Regions from separate parts of the Homo sapiens genome. Here region 2 is linked to region 1. The links come from fine-mapping of genetic effects on gene expression. A gene starts in region 1. The other region holds a variant in brackets. All regions are shown on one strand. Distances are between the middles of the regions. Region 1 holds the start of EHBP1 (EH domain binding protein 1). Region 2 overlaps LOC105374764 (a long non-coding RNA gene).

The links. PIP is the estimated chance that this variant, and not a neighbour inherited with it, causes the effect.
Region 2: its variant is the best candidate, but not a certain one, in a credible set for the expression of EHBP1 in esophagus mucosa (GTEx, PIP 0.70).

Annotation. Positions count from the first base shown.
Region 1 is chr2:62,703,264-62,707,651 of GRCh38, reverse strand. It overlaps EHBP1 (EH domain binding protein 1), which reads right to left and starts at 1,939. Exons shown (of 23, transcript NM_001142616.3): 1 at 1,600-1,939; 2 at 357-755. The coding sequence starts at 460. RefSeq lists silencers at 1,603-1,682, 1,803-2,062 and an enhancer at 2,093-2,232.
Region 2 is chr2:62,461,798-62,466,185 of GRCh38, reverse strand. It overlaps LOC105374764 (a long non-coding RNA gene), which reads right to left. Exons shown (of 6, transcript XR_002959390.2): 5 at 2,868-3,149; 6 at 2,119-2,347. It also overlaps a transcript of TMEM17 not described here. Among named protein-coding and RNA genes, the nearest start is that of TMEM17, 42 kb to the left of the region's middle. The variant G/A (reference allele first, on the strand shown) is at 2,407.

The sequences.
Region 1 (4,388 bases):
ACGGATTAATGCTCACAATATTTCAGTAGCCATTCTTTGTCTCCTTAAAATTACAAAAATCAAAGTTATTTTAACACTAATGATGAATAACCTCAAAACCAAATCTATTGTATTTAGTGTGCTCTCACAGTTACAGTCCTCTGAGCCATACTGAAGCGCAGTAATTAAAATCCACAGGGATGGTACTAGCAGCAACAGTGCACAGCACAGTACTTGTTAGAGTTATCTGCGCCCCACCCAGCTTCTACACACTAGTGCACTATAGAAAGGTAAATATACTATCAGAAGACCCAGAGTTTAGGCCACAGTATGCTTAGGCCACAGCACAGCAAAATCTACCTCCAGGTACATCTTACCATTTCTTCGTACACTCAACCATGAGCTCCTGGTAGGAGGCCACAAACTGGAACTTGGATGCATGTTTTCCCACACGCTGCAGTCTCTTCCAAACTGAAGCCATGATGATCAGTCAAGACACTGGAGCAGTTCTGGGTTAGCAATACAGCAGCTTTAATAATGCAGAGGGTCCAAAGCAAAGGAACTTTGCATGTATGTCTTTTAAAAACTCAACTACAACTCGAAATGATGCTTGGGGTCCATAAGTCTTCTCCCTGTTTCACAGGGTAAATCCCATCTTAGATGAATGGCCCAGTCAAGAACACTATGATATACGTGACAGGATGAGTGGGAAGGGGTTCCCTCATGGAGACATCACCATGCCACCTCAGGGGCTATATGATGGGTATTCTGGAGGGCTGAAAAGCAAAACAAAGACAAAAAGAGAAAGAATATGAGGAGAGAATCATGAGAAATGACTAACCACCCATGTTAAATAACGCTGCAAAAGACCATCCCAGTTCTCTGCATGTCTTTTAAACAATGAAACAAAACACTGACCTCAAAAGCCAGTAACATCAAGGATGCAAGACACCAAGGAAGAAATTACAATTCACACCGAAGACGTGGAGCGACACATCAGGTAGTCAGCACCAACAACAATCCAGAGAGACGGTAACTCGGGGCCCTACCTCCCCCTGTTAGCATCACTGAAGGGCGAGCAGAGCGGGAAAGTCTAGGGATGCTGTTTAATGTCCACCGCCAGAAAGAGGGAGAAGTGGAGTATTTTTTAATAAACTTTGTTTTTCAGTCGATAATTAATAGCCTCAAGTCCGACAATATGTGCTTGGAACAAATTAGGGAGCCAGGAGGAATGCTATTTTTCAGTCGGAGGGAGGAAATGGATGGGGAACGAGGAGTGGAGGGAAATCTCCAGGCAGAGAGAGGGCAATGTCCCGGCTCCAGGCCACTTGGGCTCCTTCGCTGCCAACCGGAGGGAAATGGAAACTCCTGCCTGGGGGTGAAGCAATGACCAGCGGGGCAAGTGGACTGTGCAGGGTGCGGTGCCTCCCTCCCCCATCCTCAGGGAAACAGTCCGCCGGAGCCCAGTCTCCTCACGCACGGAGCCCAGACCCCTGCCCCCCAGCGGAGACAGGCGGTGGCTCGTCCGCGGTCCCTGTCACCCAGGCGATACCAGAAGACCCCAGCCCGGACCCCGAGCCCCGGCCCCGCCGCTCGTCCACTCCCGCCCCCTCCTCACACCTCTAATCCCGCTGTCGGGCTGAGTCTGGCCCCGTTCCCTTCTCATAGCCGCTCCTCCGTCGCCGCCGCAGCAGCAGCCGCCGCCGCCACCGAGTCCTCCATCCCCGCCGGAGCCACATGGAACAGCCAAGCCAGCCACGGCGCTCGCGGTAGCCGGGATCTGCAGCCCCTCAGGCGGACGGCGCCCCTCACGCCCACCCCCTCCCTGACAGATCGCCCCGCGACCGTCCCCCACCCTACCAAGCCCTGCCAGAGCCACCGCTCAGCGCCCAGCACCCCCTCCCCCGCCTTTCTCCTCCGCCACCATCATCATTACCTCCCCCGCCGCACCTCTCACACTAACCCTACCCACGGCAGCTCAACCTCCACCGCCCCGCCGCCATTGGCCAGGCCCCGCGCGTGCCCCGCCCACCTCGGCGGCCGGGTCTTACAGCGGCTGGGGCACCTCATTGGTAGAACTGCCTGCCCATCACAGGGGCTCCGCCTTGCCCTTGCTCGGGAGGTGGTTTTTCCCCGAAGCCGGAATGCGACGCACAGGCTACCTTTTTTTTAAAAAAAAAAAGAAGGAACCGACTAAGGACGATCCCGCCCGTTCTTCTGATTGGCTTGGAGAGGGAAGCGATAGGCGGGAGGAATAGGGAGTGTTTATAGTGAACTGCAAGGTGATTGCAGAAGGTGGCTGTCCGTCAAAGGCGCCGCTGGTGCGGGGCTGGGTTTCTGGCCCCTAAGGGTGATTGCAGACCTAGAGATTGGCTTCGCTGCAGCTGTGGGCAGTGCAGCTGCCTGTGGGTTTCTCTCCTGTTCTCATCTCCGCCAGGACCTGGGCGCGCCCTCTCCTCCGCCACTGGCAACTAGGGTTTTTGCGCATAGCCTTTATTTCACCAGTTCCTCCTGGGATCTTACCTGACAACCTGAAGTAATGACCCTGTCAGGCACCCCCCGACACCCCGGCCGCTCCCCGCCCAACATAGAGTCAACTGGTCTTCAGTGGGATTGAATCAGCTGAGCTAGACACAAAATGTGTACAGTACAATTTCTTATTGTTCGGAGTCTTCAACATTTCTTTGAATCTTGGTTTCCTCTTCGCTGTCGGACTCTTTTGCCCCTAGTGAGAACTGTAGATGGATTTGGGAACAGCTAGCATATAAAAAGGGTGGTCAAAGGCAAAAAGGAGGAGGCAGAGTGAGGGCAGGGACACTCAATCTTGTTAAAAGAGCCAAGGGCCCTTTTGAGAATATGAAAGCTACAGATACTTTCTCAAGGGGGAAAAAGTGTTCTGTCTCAAAACACAAAAAATTGTTTTCAGTTTTAGGTGGTTCACAGACCCCTGGTGTGGAGAAAGAGGACAAAGAATGAAACTTCAGGGGAATCCTAGCATCTAAGGAATAAACAGAGTAAAATGGGAAAGAGACCGAGAAGGAATAATCAGAGAAGTAGGCGCATCAGCAAGCTATGGGCAGACAGTTTGGAAAAAAAAGAGAGGCAAGCTAACATAAAAAGAAAGCAAGCGGGATGGGTTCTGGAAACAAGGATCATTCAATCTTACGAAGGTTGGAAAGCAGGGTGCATGGACAAAGTAGCTTGAAAGGTGTTAGGGTCTAGGGAGGATTCTTTCAGGGACAGGAAGAGAGAGCAGTGATGGGTGAGAATTGAGTCCATCTGTAGACATTGGGGGCCAAGACAAAGTGGAGAGACATGTTGAAGAATCAAGAGAGATGGGGAGACAGATATAAGGCTTGAATCCAGTATCTAATTCAATTTCCACTTTCAATAAAGAAAATGATCTAATAATACAAGAGCACAGTGTGCATTTTACAGAAAACAGCATAGTTATCGCTTATTTTGCTAGTCAATTCTAAAATGTTAAGATAATCGTAATAATCATATTGATTCTTATTTTCTATTAAGAGTTCTCTGATGTCCTTCCTGAGTGGTTTACGAAGTCACTACAACCTACAGCCATTATGATCTCATATAATAATATATTCTGCATCTTTAGTAGGCTTTAAGTGTGTGGAGTTTTTTAATGGCTTATTTGTAGAAATGGTCATAAATTATTTTCATCCAAGTTACCCTTCAGAAACAATCCACATGATGATCAGAAGGTTTTTGCACCCTATTTATTACTGTTCTCTGGAAGTTCTCAAACTTTCTTATGTGGTCATTCTGGTTTCTTTTAACATGCTTCCCTTACTCCAAAGGGAGAGGGGGAAGAGAGAAAAAATAGAGAGACTGACTTTATTGTAAAGAAATTCCCTTAAAAGTAATAAGTTTTAAATGGTGTCTTAAAAAAAAATAAAGGAGTAGGATCCCTAGGGAATCTTCCTCAAGTTGTGGAAAATTTCAAGAGACTGATAGTTTCTTATGACAGCTCTTCTTTTTAGGGGAAATATTTGTCTTGGATGTAAACTCTTATTTTTCCTTCTAGACACCAAGGTAGCTAAGAAGAGATCAAAGTTAGAATCGTTTACTAAATGAGTGAAGGAATTAAGAACAGCTCTTGACCCTGTTCTGCCACTGACCTCATGTTCATAGGCTGTCTCCTGGAGGCCCTACAGAGCAGCTACTTCTTCCCCCTATAACATTTTAAAAAACAACCTGTATACTAACTAAATTTATTGAAGAATATTAAATATAGAATATGTTCAGCTCTTTTGGCCTGCTTTGCTGATAGTTATTGAATACCGAGTATTAATCTTTTTTTTTTCTTGAGACGGGGTTTCTCTCTGTCACTCAGGCTGGAGTGCAGCCTCACCCTCCCAGGCTCAAGCAGTCCTCCCACCTCAACC
Region 2 (4,388 bases), 240 kb after region 1:
GTGAAGAACTTTACATTCCAAACTCCTAGAAAACTTTTCAGAAGGTTTCCTCTCTCTCAGATCCTTTGTCCTTTATCAATGACAAGGGAGCTCTGCAGGGTAGTGGGGACCCCTCCTGATTTGGGCCTTTCTGAAAGGCAGGAACTTCTTGAGTTCTGTTGTCCCTTTTGAACAAAGGTACTTCCTACTGCCTTTCTCCAACTAAAACTGGCTCTCCAGTTTGGCATTTGAGGCCTTTCCTGCCTCATGTCCCATTATTTCCCTATTTTAAAAAAATTAAAAGACTTCTGCTTTTGCCTGTCTGGTCAACTTACGCCCCCTACCCACCTAAACGTACTGGGTACCTTTCCACATCTAAGTATCTGCTGTTGCTAGTCCTCCTGTTTTTGAATGGATTGCCCTTTACTTTACCTGCCACCCTTACTATTTTTCAAGTCAAATAACAAAAATAATAGAGGGTCAAACTTCTTGAGCATTTATGGGGCTTTAAAACAAACTTCTTGAGCACTTACTGTGTCAGTGCTAAGCACCTTATTTATATGTGTCATCTCTTTTACTCCTCACAAAATGCTGAGTCTTTTTTTTTTTTAATATAGACAAGGTCTCACTATGCTGCCCATCCTGAGCTCAAGCGATCCTCCTGTCTCAGCCTCCCAAAGTGCTAGGATTACAGGCCTGAGCTACTGTACCCGGTTGCTGAGTCACTTTTTAAGAAACTTTTCATTTTGAAGTTTTAGACTTACAGAAAAGTTGGAAAAATAGTACAGAGTTCTGTGTACCATTCCCCTAATGTTAACATCTTACACAAATATAGCACAATTATCAACACCAGGAAATTAATATTGGTACAATACTATTAACTCATACCTCCACAAATTTCTGATGTTTTTCTCATGATTATGAAACTGCCATTGCAAAATTATAACTGAGGCGGTGAAAGAGATCTGACCTAACCAACTCCATCTTGCTTCTCACTTCCAAGCTGTCCTTGTTCATTCCTAATTGTAGGCCTCACCGACTTTGGGAGGAACTTAGTTTATAGTTTAACTCTGAAACAAAGACCCATAACAGCCCTTTCCCAAAACAAATCCCCTCCCTGCCTGGGGACTAGACTGCCCTTGTAGGACTAACAAATTAGCCAAAAGATTAGAAATTATGGCTTAAGAGTCATTCAGCTGGAGGCTACAAGATTCTGACCCTCCCCAAATTGTTCATAGGGATAACATATCTATTGTAAAACCCAAGATCAGCGCTTGAGATATTTGCAGACCCTGCCCTTGATGGATCAGCTGGCACCACCCAGATCAATAAACTGCCTCACTTGATCTACCCCACTCAGGAACTGACTCAGCACAAGAAGATAGCTTCAACTCCCTATGATTTCATCTCTGGCCCAACCAATTAACACTCCTGACTCACTGACCCCTGTCCACCAAATTATCCTTAAAAACTCCGATCCCTGAATGCTCCGGGAGACGGATTTGAATAATAATAAAACTCCAGTCTCCCACACAGCCGGCTGTACGTGAATTACACTTTCTCTGTTGCAATTTCCCTGTCTTGATAAATCGGCTCTGTCTAGGCAGCAGGCAAGGTGAACCCATTGGGCAGTTACAGTTAGATGGAGGTTATGCACTTTTGGCAAGAATACCACAGAAGTGAAGTTTTGTCTTTCTCGGTATGTCATACTGATGAAGCAGGATACTTCCCTGACCCCTCTGTGGGACTCGTGACAGGGGTGCCTTGTTTACTCAGCCCGCTGCGCTCAACTCCTCACAGGAGGTAGCACACAAGTGAATGAGGTGGGAACTGGAGTGCACGAGTGCTGGAACTGCCGGCTGCTTTGGTGCCAGTAGGAGGGCCCTGCAGCAGCATCCAGATGGGGGCTGTGACCCCCAAAAGCCCCACAGGGCGTGTTACAGTGCTCTTTTAGCTCTGCTGTCCACAGACAGCTTAAGTTTTAACAGCTCAGTGGGCCCTTTACCTCGTCGCATGGGGCAGCTGCCCTCCACCAGTGAGGGCAAAGGGCCAGTGTGGCAGCCTTTCATATCCACACCTGTGGCCCCTGAGCTCTTGTCCGGTGTCCAGGAATAATGAAGTCACATGAACACATTGAAAGGTGGTAAATGTGGAGGATTTTATTGCCAATAAAAGTGGCTCTCAGCGGGAAGGGAAGCTGAAAAGGGGATGGGGGGGTAGGTCATCTTCTTCTGAAGTCTGGCCGTCTCCAGTCAGATTCTTCTCCTAAGTTACACCATCAAGCTGCACCTCTGAAGTTAAGCTGCTTCTCTCTGACGTCCAGCCATAGTCCTGATGTCCCGCTGCTTCTCCTCTCTGCCAGCTGAGTCTGGAGTTTTTATAGGCACAGGATGGGGTGGGGCAGGGCCATGGGTGATTTAGGAAAAC[G/A]CAACATTTGAGTGGGAAAACAGGAATAGAAATTCTCACTTTGGGCCATGGTTTCAGGCTTTTCAGCTTGAGGGTGGGGTTTTCGCTGGGACCCGCTCTTTTCTGCCTAGAATTTCTCTGCCTCCTGTCCCTATCACTAGCAGGTACCTCATGCTGATTTGTCTTACTACAGGTTGTGTCAACCTTGATCACTTGATTAAGGTGGTATCTGGTAGGATTCTCCATAGTAAAATTATTGTTTTTCTTTTCATAACTGGTAAGCACCCTGAGGGAGATACTTTGAGACTATGAATAGCCTATTTCTTCTCTAACTCCTGTCCACTGAATTTAGATCCACCAGCAGATCTTGCCTGCAGTAGTTATTACTATAATGTTGGTCTAATGGTGATTTTGTATTTTACGAGGGTCCCTGTTTTCCCCACTTTATAGACAAGATACTACAGCTCAGATCTGTAACTTACCTGAGGTCCCAATGCTAATAATTGGCAGAGTCAGAACTCAGGCACCAAAGCCTCTGACCCTAAGCCCTTTACTCTTGCGGTGGGGAAATGAACTATATACTGTCTCATGGCACCTCTTGTCACCACTTGATTTTCCTGTGTGTGATCTTCTCCCCCAGACACACAGTTTCTGGAGGGCAGGGACTGGCTCCTATTTGATTCCCCAAGGCTGCTCCAGGCAAGGTCTGGTGTCCCATAAGTGCTTGTGGACTGACTGGTAGCTGGAAGGATTGAAAAGGCCACCTGTGTTGAGAGGAGGAGGTAGAAACTAAAGAATATCCAGCTTCTTTCCTTTTTCCCAGCCCACAAGGTCACAAGGAAAGAGGTGGGGACATACCCAAGTCCGGACAGAGGAAAAATGTGGGCAGGGCCTCTGCAGAGGGGCAGAGGGCTCAGGAGGGCAGATACCAGCTGGATAACGAGTGGGAATGGGTGGGAGAAAGTTTCAGAGAAAAGGTAGAGAAAGGAGGAGGGACCATCTTATCTAGTTTATCATTTTACAGGTGAGGAGGCCAAGACCACGTTCTAGGGCTTTATTGATTATAATCAGACCCTCAAGTGCAAAGTAGGGTTTATTGAAAGTATTCAGGGAAGGAGTTCACTGCAACTCATTGGTAGGAAATGTAGCCTCGAGGGGCCTTTTCAGCTCAAGTGCTTCCCCTGATTACCAGTGTTTCTGTGTCTCTAAATTCACATTTATCTATAATTCAAATACTGAGTACCTTCCATGGGGTAGCACTGTACTGGGAATGAAATTGTAAGCAAAAGCAGAGGTCACCTTAGCCCAGTGGGGAGGGGTGGATTTTTCTTCTCATCTGTCTTCCCTGCGGCCTATGGGTGGGGTAGACCAAGCCAGAATGGGAAGCCAAAGGGACAAGTGCACAGTCCAGAGAGGGTCAGTGACTTGTTCAAAGTCACACAAGGCTGGAACTTGGGTCCTGCAGTGCTGGTTTCAGGGCTCTTCCTGTGCTCAAACATGTTCCTCATTCATCTTTACTTACTTTTTGATGCAGGGAGTGGAGGGTGGGGTGGCCTGAGACCCCTATGGCGGCAAAGGGAGGTCAGAGAGTGTGATGTGGGTGTTTATGGAGATGCACTTGAGTGCAGGACTGGGGCACGGGCTGGGACCAGGGCTAAGGGTGACAGCTAGGCCTACCGGAGGGGTACTGGATGGAGGAGAGAATTGTTCACAAGGAAGCCACAGGCTGAAAACACTGAGAAACAGCCTCCAGGGGCCAGCTGCAGACTTCAGTTTCCAATTCCTGAATTCACCTCTTCTACAGTAATGCCAGCCCACTGGCCTGACTGCCAGGGCCGAATGCCCAGGACCTAGACTTTGGTCTGCACAGTCAGAGGAAAGAGAGCAGGGCAGCAGTGTTGAGTGGAGTGACTAACTCTGGATTAGCAGTGATCCTGGGCTCTCAGCCCAGCTCGGCCATTACAGGCAGTATCTTCACCTGTCAGGCTCTGGTTTACTCACTG